Linked DNA regions of Homo sapiens: all the other regions are linked to region 1. The links come from fine-mapping of genetic effects on gene expression. A gene starts in region 1. Each other region holds a variant in brackets. All regions are shown on one strand. Distances are between the middles of the regions.

Evidence for each region.
Region 2: its variant is fine-mapped to the expression of STOX2 in monocytes after R848 (Quach 2016, PIP 0.95).
Region 3: its variant is fine-mapped to the expression of STOX2 in lung (TOPMed, PIP above 0.99).

The regions. Positions count from the first base shown.
Region 1 is chr4:183,901,142-183,909,371 of GRCh38, forward strand. STOX2 (storkhead box 2) reads left to right here and starts at 4,166. Exons shown (of 4, transcript NM_020225.3): 1 at 4,166-5,815. The coding sequence starts at 5,650. RefSeq lists enhancers at 3,709-4,418, 4,419-5,126.
Region 2 is chr4:183,985,191-183,993,190 of GRCh38, forward strand. All of the region lies in intron 1 of STOX2 (storkhead box 2), which reads left to right. Among named protein-coding and RNA genes, the nearest start is that of STOX2, 84 kb to the left of the region's middle. RefSeq lists an enhancer at 2,747-3,533. The variant C/A (reference allele first, on the strand shown) is at 3,926.
Region 3 is chr4:184,101,188-184,109,462 of GRCh38, forward strand. All of the region lies in intron 6 of ENPP6 (ectonucleotide pyrophosphatase/phosphodiesterase 6), which reads right to left. Among named protein-coding and RNA genes, the nearest start is that of ENPP6, 110 kb to the right of the region's middle. RefSeq lists a silencer at 1,309-1,603. The variant G/A (reference allele first, on the strand shown) is at 3,876.

The DNA.
Region 1 (8,230 bases):
GTATAAGTGGAATTATGCATTATTTTTCTTTCTGTGACTGACTTCTTTCACTTAGCATTCTGTTTTCAAGGTTCATCCCTGTTGTAGCATTGGACAAGATTTCCTCTCTTTAGAATGCTGAATAGATTCCATTATATGTATATATTGCATTTTGCTTATCCACTCATCCCTCAATGGGTACTTGGGTTGCGCCCATGTTTTAACTATTGTGAATAATGTTGCTATGAACATGGGGGTGGTCCAGATATCTCTTCGAGTCCCTGCTTTCACTTCTTTTCGGGTATATCTAGAAGTGGAATTGCTGGATCATATGGTAACTCTATTTTTAAGTTTTTGAGGAGTTGCCATACTGTTTTCCACAGTAGCTGTACCATTTTGCTTGCCTACCAACAGTGCACAAAGGTTCCAGTTTCTCCACATAATTGCCAATGTTTGTTATTTTCTGGTTTTTGGGTATTTTTTTTTTTTTTTTGATAGTAGCCGTCCTAATGGGTGTGAGTTGGTATCTCATTGTAGTTTTGATTTGCATTTCTCTAATGATTACTGATACTGAGTATCTTTTCATGTGCTTACTGGCCATTTGGATATGTTCTTCGCAGAAATCTCTATTCAAGTCCTTTGTCCATTTTTGAATCTAGTTGTTTGTTTTTTTGTTGTTGAGATTTAGGAGTTCTCTGCATACTCTGGATATCAATCCCTTATCAGATATATGCTTTATAAATATTTTCTCCCATTCTGTGGATTGTCTTTTCTCTGTTGACAGTGTCTTCTGATGCACACATTTTAAAAATTTCATGAAGTCAGTTTTTCTGTTTTTTCTTTTGTGGCTTGTGTCTTTGATGTCATATACTTGGTACACTTGATTTTTAAAAAGTAGTTAATATATCTGACGAGGAAGGCTTCAACCCAAATTTTCCCCAGTACTCTATTGGGCCTTTAGTAGTCATCAAATATGTGCCAACCATTGCTAGCCATTGGGGATATAGCTCTGAACAAAACAGAACAATGAGCAACAATGAATAAGACAGAAAATATCCCTCATCCTTATGGAGTTTACATTCTTCTAACTCTAAATTCATTCAACTGTAGCAAAGCTGATAAACTAAAGTTTTAAATGAAGAGGATTTCAAGTCAAAATTTGTATACCTTTCAATTTAAGATTACAAGTCTAAAATCAATTATACATTTGAATTAGAGTCACAAAGCAAATCTGTGTAATTAGTGTCTCTAATCTGTCTGATATGAAAATACCAAATATACACATTTTAAAAGCCCGATTAAATAATACTAATGCTATAAAATCGATTTGCTTTATCATTCATTTAATTCTAACTTTCCTAATATTGAATACTGGCTTACAAAACCGAGCTTGCTTGATGGACAACTCATGACCCAGGTACATGATTGTCTGAGGTAGGTTTAGAGATCTGAAACTGGGCCCAGGGACATAGGGGTTGTATATGACCAGAGTGACTCTTTCCATCATAACACAGATGGACAGACTGAGTCTGATTTTAATAGTGGCTATAGTAACAGGGAACTCCATTTTTCTTCAGATTGGACTGGTTTCACAATACGCTGTTTGCTAGATTTAAGCCTTCCCTTCATAGCACTATTCAGCATTGTCCCCAGTTTGGATGGATAAATTACTACACCACCCATACCTACTTTGCCATCTGATCCGATTCAGCTAACTCAGCCTATGTACCACCTGATTATTCTACATCAGGCTAGTTGGCCACGAACACTGGATCATGTCACCCCTCTGCAAGGTCTGCATTTGGAGGTGGCTGAGTGGAGCTATAGCTCTTCTCCCCAAATGTCCATCAACTCACCTCCCGTCTTTCATATGAACAATTAATATTTTCTCAGTTTAATCAAGTGCGATTCAAACTTACTTCCAGAAAATTCTTAGTCAATCTCTCCCTTCGAACAGATTCCCTCTTCTTCTGTAAAGAAATTCTAAAAATATCATTGCTTCTTTGATCCAAACTCTTCAACGGCTCACACTGCACTTGGAATAGAATATAAAACCTTTACCATGGCCTGCAAGTTCCGGCATGATCTGGCTCTGCATCCTTCCATGACCTCATCACAAACCTCCCTCTTACTGTGCTCCAATTTCAGCCACAGTGGCCTTTTTCCACTTCCTCCAACAGAAAGTCAAGATCCCTTCTACCCCAGGGCCTTTGCACAGACTGTTCCCCCTTTCTGTAACACCATCTCCCCCACTCTTTGCTTGAGTGGCTCCTCATGCTGTAGGTCTCAGCTCAACTGTCATTTCTTAGAGAGATTATTGTTCTTCATAGAACTTAGCACAATTTCTGCATTTATTTGCCTACTGTTTCTCTTCCATACTAGACGGTTTGCTGCAGGGTCATGTGTGGTGTTCTGTTTGCCCAGCACCCATCCCAGGGCTTGCGTATTCTAGACAGTCAGCCATTGTTTGCTGAATGAATGACTATCACAGTTGCCACAGCAGTCACCATTAGCTTTAAGTCATAGCTATTATAATCATTCATATAACCACCTTTGGCTCTTGGGAGGTACTGAGTAATTGTTGAATTGAGATATCTAAATGTCAGTTCTCCTACATTCATTAATACAACTTGTTATTACCTTATGGTCCTTTACACCAGCGGCCCCCAACCTTTTTCACACTGGGGACCAGTTTCGTGGAAGACAGTTGTTCCTTGGACTGGGGTGGGGGTAGGGTTGGAGAGCAGAAGGTTTTGGGATGATTTGAGTGCATTACATTTACTGTGCACTTTATTTCTTTTATTATTACATTGTAATATATAATGAAATAAATATACACTCACCATAATGTGGAATCAGTGGGAGCCCTGAGCTTGTTTTCCTGCAACTAGAGAGTCCCATCTGGAGGTGATGGGAGACAGTGATAGATCATCAGGCATTAGATTCTCATAAGGAGCACGCAACCCAGATCCCTCCAAGCATGGTTCACAATAGGGTTCGTGCTCCTGTGAGAATCTAATGCAGCCACTGATCTGACAGGAGGCTGAACTCAGGAGGTAATGCCAGTAAGCAATGGAGAGCTGTTGTAAATACAGATGAAGCTTCACCACCCACCTCCTGCTGTGCTGCCTGGTTGCTAATGGGCCGAGGACTAGAAGCTGCACGGGGTCCGTAAATATCTGTGGGGTAGGTAAATATCCAAGCAGTCCATGGCCTGGGAATTGGGGATCCCTGCTTTATACAGCTAGCTTTCTATAACTTCTAAAGCTGTAATCTTTCTGTTCTTAGCAGTTCTCTTACAGGAAAGAAGACATTGAACTAAAAGTGCCTTCTATAACTTCTAAAGCTGTAATCTTTCTGTTCTTAGCAGTTCTCTTACAGGAAAGAAGACATTGAACTAGAAGTGCCTTTCCCAATTAAAAATAAAAACCACAGAACATTAGTGAATTGGTTGACAGTAATACATTTTGATTATGTAAATATAAATTCCATAGGCTACTTAGTGATTATTTATTTATTTACCCTGGGTATCCCAAGAGGTAGTACAGTGGCCACAGGTTATAGAGGGCGGTCTTGAGATCTGAATGAGGAGAGCTCTAATTCTAGATTTTATAATGCCTGTGGCTTAACGCCATCCTGCTCTGCCTGGTTCTTCAAGATAGTTGCTACCCCCCTCAAATAATTCAAGCCTTGGAATAGCACAGATTGTGTTAGAACTTCCTGAATCCTAACCAGCTAGAATCCACTGGCTTGTTTTTGCGATATCAGCCTGTTAGAAGCATATCCCTATAAAGATTTAATATCCCTGTCTCTGCATCTTGGCACCTGTGAATATGAAACAACAGCATAAATATGATTTTGAACGTTGCATTGTCACAGATGAAAAAATGCACCAACATGTCAAATGCAGCGCTGAAAAAGGAAATCGGGCTTATTTTTGTCGTTGTTTACTGTACCAAAGCATTTTTGAAAACCCAAATCGAGGAGATAACCGTTTTTGAATGAACGGCAGTGCAAAGCGTGGTCGGGGTTAGCAGCAACGTGGCTGGGCGCCTTTAACTCGGCGTGACCTCCGGGTCCCAGGCCCGCGTCCCGGGCCCAGCGCCCAGGCCCGGGCGGCGCATTGGCCCCTCCTCCCCTCGCGCGCCGCGCGCATTGTTGTCCTTTAGCGATTGGTTGTTGGACCAGAAACAGCTGTGCAGAGCCGTGCCATCTAAAGAGCTGTGGACCTGAATGCAGCGTAGCGGGCTGGCGGTGACTTACACCGGGACTCCAGAGGGAGAGAGGAAGCGCTGCAGGCCACTTGCATTGCGTCTTCCAGGCTGCGTGGACCCGGCGCCCCGGCGTGTGCGGTTGTGGGGGAGCTCGCCGTGGCCTCCCCTCCCTCTGGCTTTAGCTTCCTTTGGGGTTGGCGCAGGTGGGCCAGGCAGCGCACCGCAGATCTCCCCGTTCCCACGAAGGCTGGCTCGCTGTCTCTCTCCGAGCGGGAGGGACCATCCTAAAAATATGTAAATATCCAAGCGCTGGCTCCAGGCTGGGGCAGCTGCCAAGGTCCCCGCGCCGCCGCCGGGTGTTTTACATGAAAATGAGAAGCCTGATGGGAACCGCGTTCTAACTTAAGGCAGCCTGGTGATTAGCATGAGACTGGGCGGCTGTCCTGCTTCCTGCCCTTCAATAGCCGTTCCGCGCGCTCGCGCCGGAGCAGCGCTGCCGCCGCGCGGGGGTCGATCGCAGGCTCGGCGTCCTTGGCAGCCATGGCTCCGGCGCCGCCTCGGCCAGTAAGTAGGAGCATGCATGTGTAGGGGGCACATGCGTGTCGGCGCACCCACCCAGCCATCCACCCGCGCGCACGCACAGCGCCCGGAGCCTCGGCAAGGGGAAGATTGACGAGGCGCTGCAGTCGCGGGGACGACGCGGGCTCTTCCTGGATTCCGCAGGAGCCCGCCCGCCGCAGCTGCTGTCTGCAGAGCCTGCTCGGATCCTGTGCACACGCGCCCCCCGCTCGAGCCTCTGTGATGAAGACTGTCTCCCGGGGACTGCAGCGGAGGCAGAGCCAGCCAGCGCCGGGGACTGCGGGCCGTGCGGCTGATAGGCCCGCGGGGACACGACTCGGACACTGTCATCCCCACGCCTCGCGCTGAGCTGCCCGGCGCGGAGGGTCTGCCGCCGCCCCTCCGGCCTCCCGCACGCCCGATCCCGGGTCAGCCCCGGAGGCCTCGGCTGCCTCATTTGTTTGGGTCTTTTGTGCCGTGGCTCCCAGTTGGCCAAGCACTCCTGCGCTGAATCGGGCCATTGTCTGCGCTCCCATTGCCTTCACGCTGCAAGTCTCGGCGCCCCCACCCCGCCCGCCCCCTCCCCGCCTCCTCCCGGCCGGGGAGCCTCCTAACGTGCCTTTCCCCCCAGGAATCTGGAAGCTATAAGCCGGGCGGATTGCAAATGAAGTGTAATGCATTGTGGGACGTGTGTAAAATCGGAGCCTTCGCCGTGGGGGTGTGGGGGGGCGTGGGGAGGGCCGGACCCGCCGCTGGCGGTGTAGACGCCGACGAGGAGGGGCTGGGAAAATGTGCGCAGAGTCCGCCCGGGTCGTGCCCGCCGTAGACGGATGAAGGAGCGCGCTGCGCCCCGGCGCTGAGGCCCCGAGGATCGGGGCGGCAGGTCGCCCTCCCCACCATGAAGAAGACCCGGAGCACAACCTTGCGGCGAGCCTGGCCTAGCTCGGATTTCTCGGACCGGGCCTCGGACCGCATGAGGTCCCGCAGCGAGAAGGACTACCGCCTGCACAAGCGTTTCCCCGCGGCCTTCGCGCCCCAGGCTTCGCGGGGCTACATGACATCAGGTTGGTTGGTGACCGCGTTTCTGCCCCCGGGCCGGGGCCGCGGGACGTGCTCGGTACGCCGCGGCCCGGGTGCTTGGAGGAGAGGACGGGCAGTGATGGATGCGATAAGTTATGGGGAAAGCAGGAAAAAATTAGCTCCCATCCACCATTTTGTACCTCCCAAGATCCACAGCAGGCCCTCTCAATATGGGGTTGGAGAGCTATTAGTTAGGTAAAACGAGGGAGGGGGGACGAGCCGGGCGTTTTGGCTGCAGGGAGATAAATGACTGCAAGCCCCGGCGCTGCAGCCTCCTCGAGCTTTGTGGAGGATCCTGCGCCCAGGGTTGCCTGCAGTGCCAGGCTTGCTGGCTGCTGCATTGTGGCCGGTTATCTGAGTGGGTATTTCCAGCAGCCCCCTGTTCTCCAAAAGGAACAGGTTCCATGCGCAGCTCTGGATGGGCTGAGTCAGGGGAGAGTCCTGCAGACATCCCAGGCTGGTCTGATTTGCACGCAGAGAACTGTGTTGGAGCTTACTGAACGCGTTCTGTGGGGGTAATGGTGTGGATGCGGATTGAATGCTCACATGATTCTGTGTGGATTTAACATATGTTGCTTTGAATTAGGCTGTATGGAAAGAATGGAGGCTGTATCATGTGTTTGCATGTCAGACAGGAGGGACAAACAAAACGGTAAATGGAAAGGGAAGGCTTCAAAAAAGATTTCCGCTTAAAATGCAGTGCTGTGAAAAGCCTTCCTGAAGGAGCCAGTTCTTTTTTTGGAAATACAACGGAATGGCTTTGGTTTGATTTGGGAACCCAGGGATGAAATTCTTGAGGGAAATGCTGAAGGAGGAAAAGCCTGGAAACCTTCCGTTGCCTTCTCCTTACTTCTCCTTAACCACTTGGATGTAATGATGTGTAAGGCATCGGTTCTTATTTATTTTTCATTCAGAGAAAAATTTAGATTTTCTTCTAAGCACACTGTAATGGAAGAACCGAGATTTTATTTTAAACCACATACTGTACCAAATCACTCTGAGCCCTGTCTTAACTGGGAAGATCATTTTAAGCTTGTGGTTGGTACTTACAGTCTAGCTTTACTCTTTTTCTCCTAAAACAGCAAGTCCTTTTTAACTGGGGTCAGCATCTCATGCTTCAAAAATGCCTTGCGACCGCATTTCCACGAACATAAAGCCGAAATAAAAGAACCATCTTTTTTATTGCAAAGTCAGGCGACATAAGGATGTTGTACTATTTTGGCAATAAGGCTCCCTTGATTTTCCCTTTCATGAAAAGCCAAATTCGTAAAGAAAGTGACAACTACAGTTTATACTTCAGTCATTTAAGTCGCTGCTGTGGTTGCTACACTCTTCAGACTTGTGGCAGTAAATTTTGAAACACACCTAAATGCAAACCTAACCTCAAAACACATATGTACATAAACCCATTGCTGCACTAAGTGTTCAGATAATCCTGGGTTTCATGTACTTAGGGTTTGAATGTCTTCATTCCACACTTCACAGTTCCCCTTTCTTATGCCTCCTAAGGAACCGGTCCTGACACCAACTGTGAAGCTATAGGAGGGTTGGTGGCCATCATTTCATCGACAAACCTGCAACACTCTGTTTCATGATTCAGGCACATTTCCAGGCAGCCAGTTTTTTTTTTTTTTTTTTTTAATCTATCTTGGCATTACCTCATTATCACATTTGCATTCTTTGCAAAAGAACTTGTCTGCTATTGCAGGTGCTGCGAGGCGTTTTTGAGGGCTTGAGGAAGAAGCTTTTAATTGTACTTGATTCCCTTATTTTATTTCTTGATCTACAAATGGTAAGATGGTCCTATGGTGATAATGAAGGATAACCTGTTTCAGGTTGGCGGTTTTCTGTTCAGATTCAATGTTAGGTTACTGCTGAGAAACCTGAAGACCAAAAGATGGAAGAAAAGTGCTGTCATTCATTCAGCATTTTTATGGCGTGCCCCCAAAGAGCGAAGTGCCTTGCTGGATTCTCATGGGGTTATAGGGTTGGATATAATACGGTTCTTGCCCAGGGAGGGAGGCTTATCATTTATTCTTTATTTTAACTGTTAGCTAATACATGGAATAAGAAGCAGGTGTTGCTGCTATGGAAGGAAATGGTAAACATGATGACAAACACCTACAATGAAGATTGGGAGAGTAGGTGGAGTCTTTCTCATGTGCAACTCTTTTGGGGGTTGGGTTGGGAAGGATGTGTATCTTCATCTATTTCCTTTACAAATATGGCTCCTTTCAAAATGTGAGTATTGATAGAAATAGATGATATACTGAAACACTTGGAAATGATTTATAAGACATTCTCATCCTTTTAGGAAATGTAAAGGAGATCCACTTTTATCAAGTTAGTGACTTTGGATACAAACAGAGCCTTTGTCACATAAAATATTGAGTAGAAAA
Region 2 (8,000 bases), 84 kb after region 1:
TGTGTTCAATCTAAATTTAAAAATTGACATATAGGTTTTGACATTTTTTTGTTTACAGTGGCTTTTTTATTTTAATTATCAAGAGGTAACACGTGTTGTTGAAAGAACAGACTTTCAACAGCAATGGTTGTTGAAGATGATTCATGTAGGAAGTCTGTAGAACAGCATACATAAACGTGTAAAAGGTAAAATTGACTTTCAGTGGCTGAAAGAACAGACTCGAGAGCCAGCTGCCTTGGGTTGAAATCCCATCTCTGCCGTTCACCAGCTCTGTGAGCTTCAGGAAGAGAGTTCCCCTCTTTAAGTGGGGCTCACACCAGTACTTAACTTTCAGAGTCCTTGTGAAGATGATGTGAGTTTCTAAGTACAGACATACTAGGCCCATATATAGATGAAAACATGCATGCTTGGATATTAGAAATTATGACTACATTTTTATTTGTACATTCTCATCCCTTCGAGTATTTGGATTTTTTTTCTTTCTCCACATATTTAACCTTTCATAGATCATAGAAGAAACTTGTGTCTTTAACTGTCAGGAGGTGGTACAGTGACCCAGGGCTTCCCAGAAGGCTCTTACACTGCCAGGACTACAGATATGTCTGTTTAGATATGAATTTGTAATACATTTGTTATATGCTTCCATCATTGCATTCTTAAGGTGCGTGTGCTTATTAGGCACCCTGTCTGACCTTACAGTGATCAGACCACGCCCGACAGGAATGGGCTGGATTACATGGGTTTGGGTGGATTTATATCCAACAACACAGCCAGACTTAAAGAGGTTTGATGAAAGGCGAGTGGCTTTGTTTGGAGGCGCTGGTGCTGGGCCCTAGGCTCAGTCTGTGGCATGCATGAGAAGCTAGTGGCTTATCAACGAGGAGAGAAAATCATACCCTAGAAGGGAAAATCAAGACCGTATTTGGTTAAGTATGTGGAGAAAGAAAAAAAAAACAAATACTTGAAGAAAAGGGATGAGAATGTATAAATAAAAATGTAGTCATAATTTCTAATATCCAAACATGTATGTTTTCATCTGTATATGGCCTATTAGGTCCTTATATGCTTCTGATCAAGCATACAAGGTAAAATTGATGAGGCTGTTAAAAAGTGCATCAGTAGCAGTTGGTGTGGAACACATTCTCAAGGGGGTCACAGGGTGACAGATAGTCCAGGACAGGGAGGAGACAGTGCCACGGGGAGGACTCAGCAGGAGGATGCCACGTCGTCAGAGGGAAATGGATACGCCAGACCAGAGCAAAGGGGGGACCCCAGGAGGGCAGAGGATGTGAAAAGCGTTAGGTGGTTGAGGGCATGGAAGACGTTTTATTTAATAACATTCAAAGCAAGCATCTCAATGGATCAGTAGATGAATATATAGTCTGCATGCCTGCTGAGTGTCCCAGACTCTAGGCAGCTAGAGAAGAGCTGATCTGGGCACAGGGACCTGGTTAGTGTTTGTAGCTATCGGATGGGTGATGGCGCAGAAGCGGGTTATACGTTTTGTAGCCTCCCGAGGACAGAATGGATGTCACTGTGCAGGGGTGACAAGAGACGCTGATTTGAACTCAACTCACAGGGGGGCCTTTGCCAGAGCCTGAGCTCTGTTGGGGGAGGTTCTGGAGGACAGGCTGAATCACCGGAGTCAGGAGAGGATAGGACGCTTTCAGGATTTTAGCCGGGAGACCCACGTGGGGACCCCTGTAACTCTGAGTTTCGGGGGCGCCTTATGAAGAGCTTCAGTGCATTTCCCATCTTTGCTGGCACCCCACATTTTGTGCCCCTGGTAGCTGAGCTGCTGGGTTCATGAGGATGTGGGAGAATTTGCTGCAGAATCGTCTGCCACCCACCTCTATGGGTTTCTGAGAATGAGATAATTTTTCGGTTATCCGGATCCTGAGCGGAGGCAGCGAGCGGTGCCTGTTTTGGCGTTATTGGATTTGGGAGAGTTCGGCAGTACCACTGCCGTGAGATTCGTTTCCTTGGCCTCTCTGACTCCATTTTTCTCGGGTTTTATGTGGCTGCTCTACTCCTTCCATTGTGTTCTCTCTCTCAACTGCCGCCCCCGTCTTCCTCCTGAGATGTTTACGTGTTGCTTCTTGCACTCTAAATAAAGACTACATGTTTTCTCTGCTGGCATAAATTCCTCTGTGTGTGTGTGTGTGTCGGTGTGTAAATGCATGTCCGCAGGTGTACACGTGAGTGATTCAGCCTGGGGTTCACAATGAGCGTGGCACCCGTAGTGCAATGAAAAGGACATTTTTATGCAGATACGTGATTCATTTTCACCTTGCTGATCTTAGCCGTAGACATTTTTAAGAAACAGGGGAGGAACCAGCCACCCCCCAAATCCCATGAATCCCACTTCTCGGTGCGATTGGAGTTGTGTTGTAAGCGCAGGAGAGGCTCCTGCTGAGAGCGAGCTCCTGACATAGTGACCTCATTCCCCACGCCGCCCTCCTCGCAGCGGCAGAAGCCGCACTGGCTGGTGCTGGGTGAGCTCCACCGCTGCCCGGGCTGCGAGCCTGACGGCTGTGTGTCGGGAATGACGAGACCCAGGCTTGCAAAGACTTGCACGGCAACTGGAATTTATGACAAATAGCTCACTGCAGCTAAACTTTGATACAGTGTACAGTAGAACCGCCTGTTACACACAGGAGGGAGACGCGTCCTTCGTCACCATGCAAAGCCAGCCTTAACACAACATAGGAAAATGTGGCAGGTCTCTAATTACGGACTGGTGAGTATATGACGCCAGATCAATTTTAATGTGTGTGTTCTCTCTTCAAGCATCTGGAGGTATGTGCCCTTTTTACCTTTTTCATGATTAAAAAAATATGAGTTGGTGCTAATGCATGGGAGGGGACCTGGGCCCCTTGGAGAGGAGAGTGTGCCCCTCGCCACCCCGCGCCTGGGGTACATTCTGACCTCGCGTCTCCGCACTGCACAGACAAAGGAGCCTGCACAGACAAACAGAGGCTGTAGCTTTTCTTGGAGCGATGACTCATTTCAGTTCACAAAGGATTCTGGGCAGGGCAGTGAGAAGTCAGGTTGGCTGATCCGTCCCTGTGACTTCACTTTGCAGAGAACAAGCAGAAGAGGAGTGACACTGCAGATTCCGAGGCACTGCAGTGGGATGTTGGCTCAGCAAGTGGCTGTGATGTACGGGATAGGCATGGAACAGGATTCCAGCTGTTCCATGCAAATAGGATAAAAGAATGGTAAAGAGGATTCCTTTTTTTTTCCCTCCTCAAAACGTTACCAGCAAAGTACATTCACAGAGCCTTTTTAAGGTGCCTTTTGCCAGCTTTTGAACTGAACTTGTACCAGTATCTCAAGCCCTGAATTGTAAGAAGAGCTGAGAGTTCTGGAACTCATTTTTAAAAAGTAGATCTACGAAGGTAAAGTACCAGATTCCTCTTGTGTTCCACGGGCCCTCAGTAGCCAATCTGAAATGCTCATTTAGGATACTATGACTTGAAACTTTACTCTTTCTTCTTATTCCAGATTCTAGGACGTCCGTTTCTGTTACTGGCTCCTTCTTGTGCTTGGATGCAGCTCCCTAGCATGCACCAGGCTTTAGCGTCAGTGCTACCTGGGGGATGGAGCCAGTCCAGAAAGGGCCAGGTAGGTTTCCCCTGCTTTTATTTCAACAGTTGTTGTGTGCAAAGGAATATGGTGAAATGTCAGCACCACCCGTGAAGAGGGTGCACGGTCCTCTGAGAAGTCTTGCTGTTCCGCTCCTCCCGCAGCCTCAATCTTAGGCAGTCCAGGTCCTCCCACTGTGGGCTGCCCACCACACACGACCTCACCAGCCCAGGTCATCCCAGAGCTGCTCACGGGGACCGAGAAGTCCACAGCAGCAGGATTTGCCAATAGGAAATAATCAGACTGCCCCAGATTTCCCTCAGCTGTATATCTATCT[C/A]GCTCGCTGCTCTGAGGGAGGCATTCAGTAAATAGTATTTGACATTTTTTCTGGTTTTTTTTTTTTTTTTTTTTTTTTGTTTGTTTGGTTTGGTTTGGTTTTTTGAGACAGAGTTTTGCTCTTGTTGCCCAGGCTGGAGTGCAATGGTGTGATCTCAGCTCACTGCAACCTCCGCTTCCCGGGTTCAAGCGATTCTTCTGCCTCAGCCTCTTGAGTAGCTGGGATTACAGGCACGTGCCACCACGCCTGGCTAATTTTGTATTTTTAGTAGGGACGGGGTTTCTCCACATTGGTTAGGCTGGTCTTGAACTTCTGACCTCTGTTGACCTGCCTGCCTTGGCCTCCCAAAGTGCTGGGATTACAGGCGTGAGCCACTGTGCCCGGCCTCGACATTTTTTCTTACCAATTAATATATAGTGCCCGAAATTTTGCATACTGTTTGGCCTGTTAACCTACATGCAATGCACTAAAATCCAAGAAAGCCTGATTTATGTGCCCAGGGACTGTTTCCAAGACTAACATCATATTGAGGCTGCTGTTAACTGCTAAGGAAGTAAGCATATTTCATCATAGTCTGCTTTAGGATTCAGATTATGACAGAGCTGTTTTCTTACAACATCCATGGGCTTTTCACACGAAAGCTTTTTAAAAAAACATGACAACGAAATGGTAAATTTTGGTCCTCAAAAGTACATTACATGCCTCATTTCCAAAGTGAGACTTGGCACATCTGAAAGCATGGCTTTACCCCCTCATCACATGGATGGTTTCAGCACTGTTACAGATATTTCTGAGAGTGTTGAATCCCGTATGTAATAGGTAAGAATTTTTAGAACATGTTTAAAGGCAGATGTTCAAGACCCCTTGAACATCTTCTTTCTCTTCGCAGTCACATCCATCTCATAGCTCACCCTGTCACAGAAGAAAAGAGAGCATGTTTCCTTTCTCCACTGTCAGAGGTCTCTTCTTTCTGCATAGCAGTTTGCATCTTCAGAGCAACGTTGAGGATGCTGAGTCAGGTTTAAAGGATGTTTGGTCAGAAAAAACACAAGCATGGTATGTTGCAAATACAGTTCCATCATGTCCTCACACCCATCAATTCTACCCATCCTTAAGGACCTATTCCAAATCTCTGTCCCCTGGAAAGTTCTCCCTAATCACCCCAACAGGAGGTCATTTCTAAATCCTTGAAACTCCCATTATAGAGTTAAGTTTCTATTCATTCATGTGTTTTCTTGCTATAGCTCTTCTAAGGGTGTTTTGAACAGCAATGTGTATATTTCATGATGCTTTATATTTTCACACATGTATATCTTATATTCCCACCTAAATTGTAATCTCATTGAAGGCAGAGATCAAGATTTATGCTTTTTTCTGCTGTCTACATCTCCTAGCAGTTCCCTACACATGGAACCCTTTCAATAAATAGTTGAATAGGAAGAGGGGCAGTTTAAAAAGCAGGATTTTTTTTTTTTTTTTTTTTTTTTTTTTTTTTTTTTTGGTCATAGAGAGTTAGAATGATCTGGTTTTGCTAATTTTAAGAATCTTCACAGGGTATATTCAGGCTAAGGTGGACCTCAGGAGTCATGCATGCCACTCTAGAAGTTGTGATGGTTCTTACCCTGAGACAGTGTCACAGCCAGGAAGCTGCCTTACCCTGCTTGTAAAGAACTGTTGCCGTAAAGGACAAATGAGCATGTGGACATTGATCACGGTTTACTTGAATTATATTGGACAAGCCATCCTTAAGTTATGAGGAGTATGCCGAATTCGGGAAGTTTAGGTGAAAGTCACTTTTTTGACTCCTACAGGACATTTTCCTTAGAAGAAAGAGCCAGAATGGTTACTAATAATTCGGATCATATCAGAAATTATTTAACTCCTGGTGTCACTGATTTTTAATACTAAGAGTACTTATTTAAGTCCTGAGTTTCCTTTCCCTTTCTTAGGTAATGGATTGGCCCAACCTAAGTTTTGAAATAGGTCAACATCCTTTGATATCCTTGTAATTCTCTATCCACACTATTTCCCATCTCCTAGTGCCTTTTTCTCTCCAAAGTCCCTAGTGTAATGCATGTTTGCACTCCCAGCCTGGTGATGCATCCCAAATGCTATGTGTTCTATATATCTGATTAAAGTAATCTTATTAAACTACTTCATACTAGTATAAGGAAGACCTCTGCACTCTTAGCCTTCCCAAAGATATTTTAGTTTTTTAAAAAGGCTTATTTTTAGGTACAAACAAATTTTCCATTGGTAGAAATTCAAACACTGTAAATGAGTAAATTGGATAAATCTAGATGGGCTTGAGGAAGAATTTTTTTTTTTTTTTGACGGAGTCTTTCCTTGTTTCCCAGGCTGGAGTGCAATGGCACGGTCTTGGCTCACTGCAACCTCCGCCTCCTGGGTTCAAGTGATTCTCCCGCCTCAGCCACCCGAGTAGCTGGGATTACAGGCATCTGCCACCACGCCTGGCTAATTTTTTGTGTTTTTCGTAGTGATGGGGTTTCTCCATGTTGGCCAGGCTGGTCTTGAACTCCTGACCTGATCCACCCACCTCGACCTCCCAAAGTGCTGGGATTACAAGCATGAGCCACCGCGCCCGGCCAGGGAAGATATTTTTAATACTAGCTACTATTTATTAAACATGTATTAGGTCTCAGGGACAGGGTAAGCACTCAACATCCATTATCTCATTTAATCCCCTCAGTGAGTCTACAAGGTAAACATCATTATGTATACTTCACAAAAGAAAAAATTGAAACTCAAAAAATTAAATAATTTGCCCCAAATCACACAACCAGTGAGGAGCAGAACTGGGCTCTGAACCTAAAGTTTTGACTACAAAGCCCATGGCTTTTAACACCATCTTGTAATGCTGAATTGAAGAGAGAAAAGTTACTTAATTGTACAGCGACTTAGACGTTTCCTCTGTGTATCTGATCTGATCCCCTATCCTTTCTTTCATGCCTCTGAATTCTGACATAGTCCTTTCATAATGACCTCCATGGCAGTTGGAAGGGGTAGAAGCGTGTTCGGTTTTAGGGGGGTTGGTTGGTAGCAGTCAATCGGTACAATTTTGTTGTAATTTGGGAACTGTCAACCTGTCCATATTTGTAGTTTATTTAATTAGGCCTTCCTGTCCTATTACAATTGTATTTTACAGAAATCAGTCCCACTACAGTTGTCATCCCTAAACTGATGAAGCAGAGAATACAAAGACTGAGAAATAGCTCTGGTGATTCCAACTTAAAAAGAGGGAAAGTGAATGTGTGACCTAGAGTTGTTAGATGATTTATTAAGCTGAAGTTGGGAAATATCATCAGTGGAAACTGGAGCATCTAATGTCTAGTGTTAGGCCAGGTTATGCTGCAGAATGAACATGAAGGAGAAGTACAGGGTGGCTTAAAATAGGAATTTATGTTCTTTCTTATGTGATGCACTTAAGGAAAAGGAAGACGTCATGTTCCTCAGGTGCTCTTGTTGGTCAGGTGCTTTACAGAATTTCAGGACATCTGGGAGATCTTACTAATTGTTATCATCTAGGACTGGTATTTCATCATAACTTTATCCTTGTTGGTAAGTGGCTTTACCTTCATTCTGGTTGAAGGACTGGAGCACAAGTGGCAGCTGGTGTTGGAAAACATCTTGTAAGGTAGCAGGGCCTTGCCTCTTCTTGTTTATGTACGTAGGACCTTTTGATTCTACAAGCATTTGAGGACCTGCCGTGTGAAAGCATTCGGCTAGGTTTTATTCCATGTGCCTAGCACGTACCACCCTGGACCTAGCTGATGGGTTATAGTGTGGAGCCTTAGCAAAGGCGTTAATTACGAAATTAACCTGATTGGTCCCAGGGCTCATATTCCATCCTACCTTTTCTGCTATGCATCTATTGCAAATAGCTAAATGGTCCAACAGAAGTGTTAGTTGTTCCTATCAGAGACGTCAGGAATCACCTCTGGCGGTGGGGAAGGTGGCTCTTGGCCAGGGCGCTCTCACCCACCCCTGCCCACGAGGATGGCCCCTTTCTGCCCGATGCTCTACCCTTTCTGCCTTATCTGTCTCTATTTATTCT
Region 3 (8,275 bases), 200 kb after region 1:
TGTGTATGAGAGTGTGTGAGTGCATGAGTGTAAGCATGTGTGTGCGTGTGTATATGTGAGTGTGTGTTTATGTGTGTCTGTGTTGCACGTGTGTGTTAATGTTTATGTGTGTGAGCTTGTGTGTGTGTGTGTGTGTGTGTGTGTGTGTGTGTGTGTGTGTGTGTAGCACTGGGGTAGGGAGATGGGGAGGAGAAATCAGGATGAGGAGTCCACACAGGGAGTCCAAATAAAGAGGGTGGGGTCGCTCCAAGGGTCCTGCAGTGACAGAATCCTGGAACTCCAAGAGCGGAGGAGCCCTTGAATGACCTGGGTGGGAAAGATGGAAAGAAAGCTGCCATCAGAGAGAGACAGCTGGAAGAGCCAGGAGGTGAGAGGAACTGGGTTGTTTTGCTAGCGAGGTTTTGCCAACCAAACAGGGTGACCAACTCTCCTGGTTTGCAGCTGAGAGGGTTTCAGGGATGCAAGGCTTTCAGTTTGAAAACCAGGACAGTCCCAGGCAAACCAGGACAAGTTGGCCATTGTACAGTCAGCACTATATTAGGAATTTAGGTAACATCTTCACCCAGGGTGATATGTTCAGCACTTCCCAGTGCCTTCCAGGACCCCTCCTCTAGACAGGGGTAGACAGCAATGCCAGGACCCTCCTTGATGAGCCCCTCAACCAGTTAATCATTTCTAACAGGAAGGAACCAGAAACAAGTCGCCCCACACCAGGACGCGCGGTGAGAAGCCGCTGCGAGGGTGCCTTCAGGCTTGCGCGCTTTCCTGCCGGTGCCTGCATTCTCTCTGGGCGCCTGCACTCCATCGCCAGCTCCCCATGATAATGCCTGTTATATGCTTGCATTGATTTGGGAAGCCAAGGAATAATTATGAGATAAGAGTTATAATTTCTAGACCAGGCCTTTGTCTCAATCATCCTTAGCATTAAAATGAAAAGAAAATGCAACATTTGCGCTTTACCTCCGAATCAGAAACCCAGTAAATACAGTTTGTTCGACACTTGCCAGGGCCCATCCGTTTGCATTCAGCATTGTAGGATTCCTTTGAGTGCTGAGCTGAGCTGTGCTGTCTGGGGAGCACACTCAGAAATGCGAGGCTGCGCTGGGAGTGAAGGTGCAGGCAGAGGGAGGGGTGGAAGGACAGGACGAGGCGAGGAGCACTGAGTGGTCCATGTTTATTATTTGCCGCTTCACATGGGCAAGGTGTGGCTTTGGCAAACTCTAGGGGCATTTACTTGTCTTTTCATGATGCATTTTTGGAATACATGATCATATATATTTCTTGCCCATTCCTTCCTATTTCTCTCCACCATATACAGGAGAATGGTTGCTAAGCTGGGGAGAATAACGGAGGAGGCTGGTGGCCAACAGCTGCCCAACATCCGGCCTCCAGCTGTGTCCTGCATCCCTAAATGTCTCCTCCCGAGGTGGCTGGAGGGTTGAAATCTGTCTTCTCTGCCATCCCTCCCCGAGCAGAGGCGCTGTTGCAGGGCCTTGCCTGGTGCCTCCTGCTCTGCCTGGTGCTGCCCCTCTGGCCTTCCCACAGAGGCCACAGTGTCGCTCCCTGCTGGAAACCAGCGTGCTCACCGTCCACACCGGTGCATCCCATGCTGGCTGCTCAAGGACCACCCTGAGCTCAGCCTGGACCTGGCTCCGGGATATTTGCATTCAGCAGGTCAGGAGGAGTTGAGGAATCTCTTCTTAATGTCCCCCAGGTGGTCGGGATGTGCAGTCAGCCATGAGAACCCCTAGAAGCTGCTCACCTGGCATCTGCCATGGGCCATGTGAAAGGATGATTGTCCTTTTCTGAGAAGTGCCTGAGATCAGGGACTGTGCCTCATGTCCCTTTGTGTGGCACTGGGCAAGCAACACGGGCCTCCCTCTTAGAAAGTTCAAAGGGCTTCAAGGGACTGCAGAATGAGGCACAGGATCAGCTGGTACAGGGCTGCTTTCCAACAGGCGGGAGCCAGGGTGGCCCTCCAGCTGCTCCAACAGGTGCTTCATTCTCAAAGGCCGGCGCCCATGGGATGCTGGTTGTTACACATTTTGACTATTGTGTCTCCTTTCAACTACTGAAAGTATAATTCTCATGGGGTGTGGGGTCAGGGACCCAAGTTCTTCCCTTTCTCCCTTGAGGCATCACAACAGGTCTCCAGGGAACTGGGGAACACCGTTGAAATCTGGTCAGATTAAAATAAAAGGTGAAACCTATCTAAGGTGTATTAGAGGCCTAATAAAAATCTACTTTTTTCTTCTAGGACACGGTTATAACAGAAGCCTCCCACCTCCCTGAAAATACAATACACTTCTGACATCCTCCCAGTCTAAGAAAAGGCACCAACAATGTTCAAGTCATGGGTGGCTTCAGTGAAAACGCTGGTGAAATGATGACAGTTTGGCTGGCTTGGATGGTTTTGCTGCTAGTGTGAAGGTCAAGATATGGTTTCTATTATAAACCACGCTTTCTCATATTTTGTGGCATTGCTATTTTAAATTGTCCTGCAAAGAGGCTTCCAGCCAGCAGGACTCTTTGGAGCCCGTGGGAGTGGTGGTTATGAGCCTTGGAGATGTGTTTGCCACATGCCGCTCCAAAGGGATGTTCCTCTAACCATTTCCCTTTCTCTGTCTTTCTGAAACAGAATGTAATTGCTCAGGCCTCGGCCTGCTGGCCTGACCCCAGCGAGCCCCTGGCCACACACTGCTTGATCCTCGAAATGGAAAATGCAGGCAGCCAAGTCAGCAGGGATCTGGCGACGCAGACATTCTCGGAGTGGAGCAAAGCGCTGGAGAAAAGCACTTAGTGGATGGGGTTTCTTTCTTCTTTTCTTTTCTTTTCTTTTTTTGAATCACGTTGATTGCAGTGCGCCCAGGCTGAGGAGGGTATGCCTGTGCTCCCACACAGCTCCCACAGATGGCCCTGGTCACCATCAGAACGCATGCAGCTTCCCACCCCACATCTGACTTTCTGAAGCTCAGGCAGGCCTGGACAATACCACACTAGCTGTCACTAAAGCTCCGAAGCCACGTTTTCCAGATTGTCTTGATTTCCCCAGATATTTTGAGTCCAGGCCTCACAGCCATTCAACCACAGGCTTTAGAATTGAGCCTGGCATTTCATATCCTTTTCCAGTTTTCAAAATAAGTCTTTCCTCTGGAGAAAAATATTGGCCTCCTTTAGAAGCTTGGGCCTGAATTTGCTGCATTTCTCTCAAGTCAGGCAGGGGTCCAGACCATGTTCTACGATCTTTCACCTAGCTCTGGGGAAATCTTTCCCCATCCTACCTTTGTGAGCATGGTGGCATAAAATGGACACTGTCCAGGAGAGGCTGCAGGAATTAGCCCTTCAGGGCTGGGGAGAGCTGTGTCCTGCCCTTGGACTGTAGCTCTGGGTCAACTGAGGTCAGAAGAATTTGTACTTTCAACACCTCTTCCCTGTTGAAATTTCTTCTGGGGCTACTAATAATTAACCAAGCTTGAAAGCCTGACTTCGCTTTCTTCTCTGTTTACTTGGTGACTGGTTTACACACCAACCAAGTGAACAATCTGTCAATAAGTAGTCAGGAATCAACTGTCTCAATATTTAATAATTCATACCACCCACTAACATCTACTGAGACTCTACTGTGTACAAGTTCTATGATGGGAAACAAAGGTCAAGATGCCAAAGACCTGCCCTCAGGGAGCCTCCACTCCGGCAAGGCAGAGTCCAAAACAGACAAACAAATGTAGCATCAGGTCTTACAGAAATTCCAAGCTGGAGAACATTAGCAACTCTTGAGTGTTTCCTGGAAGAGATGGTGTTTGAGTTGGGCTTTGAAGGACAGGGAGGGATTGGCACAGAGAGGGCATTCCAGAGATTCTACTGATTATTTATTA[G/A]GCTGATTGAAGTTACTTGGGCGAGCACGGTTACCCCTCCCTGACCACTAAATTCCCAACACTTAAGTCTTGCACTGGAAGAATTGTTTTCACAACCAGAAAAATTTTGGTTCGGGTCTATGCAAATCATCCATGTTGGTGATAAGAAAGAAAGAAAGGGGTTGGGGTAAGGAAGAATAAAAGGAGATAAATTGGGCTTGGAACAACTGTAGAGGTTTTTGCAGTATGACACGAGCAAGAAAATTTAAAAGGATGATGGTAGAACTTCTGTTTCTGCAAGTGTGAAGGAGCCAAGATGTAGCTCTAGACCCCACAGAAGCCAGAAGGGTGAGTCTGTAACTGGGAAACACGATGTTAGAAACACATTGAACATTCTGCTGAAATGTTTAGAACATCTTAGAAGAACTGGATGGGACTGTGTGCTTCATGGCTAGACTTGAATTCAAGTCCTGGGTTAGTTGCTCAGAGATTTGTAACCATAGGCAAGATACCTAAAATGCTGAGCCGCCATTAACTCAGTAAATACAGTATCCACAATGCAGAGAGAGTGAATTGAGGAGGTACTTCATTCCAGATAGCCACTATTGTTATGGTTGTTATTGACCAAAATTTTTTTTAAAATCCCCATATTTTTATTATCTGCAAAATATAAAATAACTTGATGTGTATGTCATTGAAACTTTTGGGAGGGCCATAGGGAGCTCTTTCCAAAGTCTACGATGATCCAGGCAAGAAAAATTAAGATTGTTGTTCACAGCAACCAGTATTACTAATTAAAGGTGTATGAAATCACATTGACAGTCTGTTTAGTGGGTCAGTGTAAGGATTTTCGTGGAACTGCTCATGACCTCAGTTATTTAACTCTGTTCTTCCCATGAGCTATGAATTACATTACCCTGAAGATGATGGATCATGATCCTCCCCTGTAAAAATTCCCTGTGGTTTCCCACTGAACTTAAGATCAAAAATACCAAGTTGTTTTTTTTTTTTTTGAGATGGAATCTCTCTCTGTCTCCAGCTGGAGTGCAGTGGCGCAGTCTTGGCTCCCTGAAACTGCCACCTCCCAGGTTCAAGTGATTCTCCTGCCTCAGCCTCCCAAGTAGCTGGGATTACAGGCACATACCACCATGCCCGGTTAATTTTTGTATTTTTAGTAGAGACAGGGTTTCATCACGTTGGCCAGGCTGGTCTCGAAATCCTGACCTCAGGTGATCCGCCTGCCTCAGCCTCCCAAAGTGCTGATATTACAGGCATGAGCCACCATGTCCGGCCACAAAAATACCAAGTCTTAAAATAAAAAATACCAAGTCCTGGCCCAATGGTCCCTTGCTTACCTAAGCAGCCCCATCTTGTTGCCACGTCCCCTCTCCCAGCTCCCCACACTTGGCCACCTGGCCCATTCTTTCCATTCCTCTCACTCTCAAAGGTCTTTCCTGGCTCAGGTTCTTCAAGAAGCCCATTCCCTCAGCCTGGAGAGCACTTCCTCTTCCCGCCTGACCACTGAGCACTCCTCCTCTGGGTTTCAGCCTCAAGCTCCCTTCTCAGAGAGGGCCCCCCCAGCCCCTCATCTATATCGGTCTCCTGTTGCCCCCACCCCAGTACCCTCTTTCATGGCACTCTCTGTGTCCATGACAGCTCTTACCATGGCGACTTATTTGTGTGGCATGCGTGTTTATTTAGTGTCTAGTGCCTTCACTAGCAGGGAGGGCAGGAGTGGGGGCAAGGACTCCCAGTGGCTCCCCACTGTGGAATTAGAACTTCTCGTTGGCCGTCGCTGTAGTCGGCACTCAGCACATATCTGCTGGTTCGCTAGGTGCACGATTGCTGAGGCACACGGCCTTCACGGTCGGGGATGGAAGAGCGTGCTTGAGTCTGCTGCAGACTACCCACAGCCCTTCTCCACTTGGCATTTTGCTGTGTTGTGCCTGACTCTCCCACAGTTTAGCATCGCCGAGCCTGCCTCCTCAGTGTCCCTGGCCCACCGTGACATTGTGACAACCCAACCTGCCCCAGGCCCCTGGGGGAGGGAGTGGCAGGGTGACCCACTGAGAACCACGGTGGAGCCAACCTGGGCGGGACTTCCGTGCTCTGGGGAAGAGTGTGATCTTCATCCCCTGTGGGAAGATGCAGGGCAAAGTCTTTCCAGAAGACAGGGAACAGGTCTCAGGCAGGACTTCCATGAGGAAGGCCCATTTCCTATCCTTGAAGCAAAGAGCTTGGCTGGGGTGACGGGCTCAGGCTGGACCTGTGGAGGCAGCCTGTGCTTTACCTCTTTCTGTTTTATCCTATGGGAATAAGAACACTTCAGATTTCTCTCCTTTCAGGACAGGAGGCTGGAGAAAGGACTGACAGCGGTTGGAAATCCAGCTGGTTTATTAAAGAGTGCAGGGGCAGAGGCAAACTGGGGGCCCTTGCTTTGCTATGGCAGGGTCAGCAGTCCCGCTGGATGACTGTGTGTAATCCCAGCACTTTGGGAGGCTGAGGTGGGCAGATCACAAGGTCAGGAGTTCGAGACCAGCCTGGCCAATATGGTGAAACCCCGTCTCTACTAAAAATAGAAAAATTAGTCAGGGCTAGGTGTGGTGGCTCACGCCTGTAATCCCAGCACTTTGGGAGGCTGAGGTGGGCGGATCACGAGGTCAGGAGATCGAGAACATCCTGGTTAACACAGTGAAACCTCGTCTCTACTAAAAATACAAAAAATTAGCCGGGCGTGGTGGCGGGCGCCTGTTGTCCCAGCTACTCGGGAGGCTGAGGCAGGAGAATGGCGTGAACCCGGGAGGCGGAGCTTGCTGTGAGCCGAGATCCCGCCATTACCCTCTAGCCTGGGCAACAGAGCAAGACTCAGTCTCAATAAAAAAAAAAAAAAAAAATCTGTTTCTGTCTTTATCTTTTTCAGTGACGCCTCTCTAAGAAATCCTAAGAAAAAGATAAACTCAATTAAGTCTTCCTGTTAGTGCAGCCGCCTTAGAGTCTGCAAGACTTAAATTTATGGTAGAAAGTTGGTGTGTTTTGGGGAAGGGCATTTTTACCAAGGAAACCAAATCTTCCATGTTTCTGGGATGGCGGCTACAGGCAGAAAGGAGTGGGGGACAGGACTCTAGTGGCTGTCACCCAGCATCACCATGTCCTGACTCAGCTGTTTTCCTAATCATGGCTAAACCAGAAACCAGTCTCATCTGCCAGCCGAACTCAGACCCAGAGAGGCTGCTTTCGGGCCGAGAGTCTTGCCATGCCACAGATGTGAAGTCTAAGCCAGCCCTGAAACGTCATCGCATGCACTGTGGATGGGTGTATAGGTTTCAGGGCAAAACTTAACATTCTTTTACCATTTGGGGAGAAGTTTAGCGAATAGGAAAGTGAGAGATTAATAGCCTTGGCACAACGCAGAAACGAGGATATAGAATGGGGTTTTTAATTCTCTGCTGTCAAGAAAGGATAAAGAACAATCGAACGATGTCAAAGGAAGAAGTTTAAGCCAATAAAGAAAGAATGGGCACTTGTTTTGGGGATTTCTCAGAAAACAAATAAATAAAGCCCCAATGTTATATTAAAGTAGAATCAGAAATTATAGCTTTTACATATGGTGTCTTAATAATAAAAATTTGTAAATTCCAGGATAGAAGTAAAATGATTAAGATCTTTAGTCTAGGAAACTGCAGAGTCATTAAAAGATATCTCAGTGTCTCTCAGGACTCAGGGACGATTATGAGTTTCCAGAGAGACATTTGTGTTCATGGACATAGGTGCTGTAAGTTATGTTAATGGAACTGATTGTTCTCTTTGAATTGGCTTCTTGGAAGCTCAGAACCACATGTGTGTTCCATTTTGTTTGGCTGTATGTTATTTTCAGAACTAACAATAGCAGCGGGACGCAGTGGCTCACGCCTGTCATCCCAGCACTTTGGGAGGCCAAGGCGGGCAGATCACTTGAGGTCAGGAGTTCAAGACCATCCTGGCCAACATGGTGAAACCCCATCTCCACTAAAAATACAAAAATTAGCTGGGCAGGGTGGTGGGCACCTGTAATCTCAGCTACTTGGGAGGCTGAGGCGGGAGGATCTCTTGAACCTGGAAGGCAGAGGTTGCAGTGAGCTGAGATCGCACCACCGCACTCCAGCCTGGGTGACAGAGGGAGACTCCATCTCAAAAACAAAACAACAACAACAACAAAAAAAAACAAAACAAACAAACAAAAAGAACTAACAATATCCATGATGCAGAGTCATCAGGAGAATTCGAAACAGGAACTGGGATGCACTTAATTCAAGAGAGCTATTATTATGCAGTAGTTGTCACTGACTAAAATTTAAACAGACATTTTTCTTGATGTATTTATTATCTGCAAGGTGTAAAATAACTTTCTATGCATGTCATTGAAGCTTTGGGGGAGGGGTCAT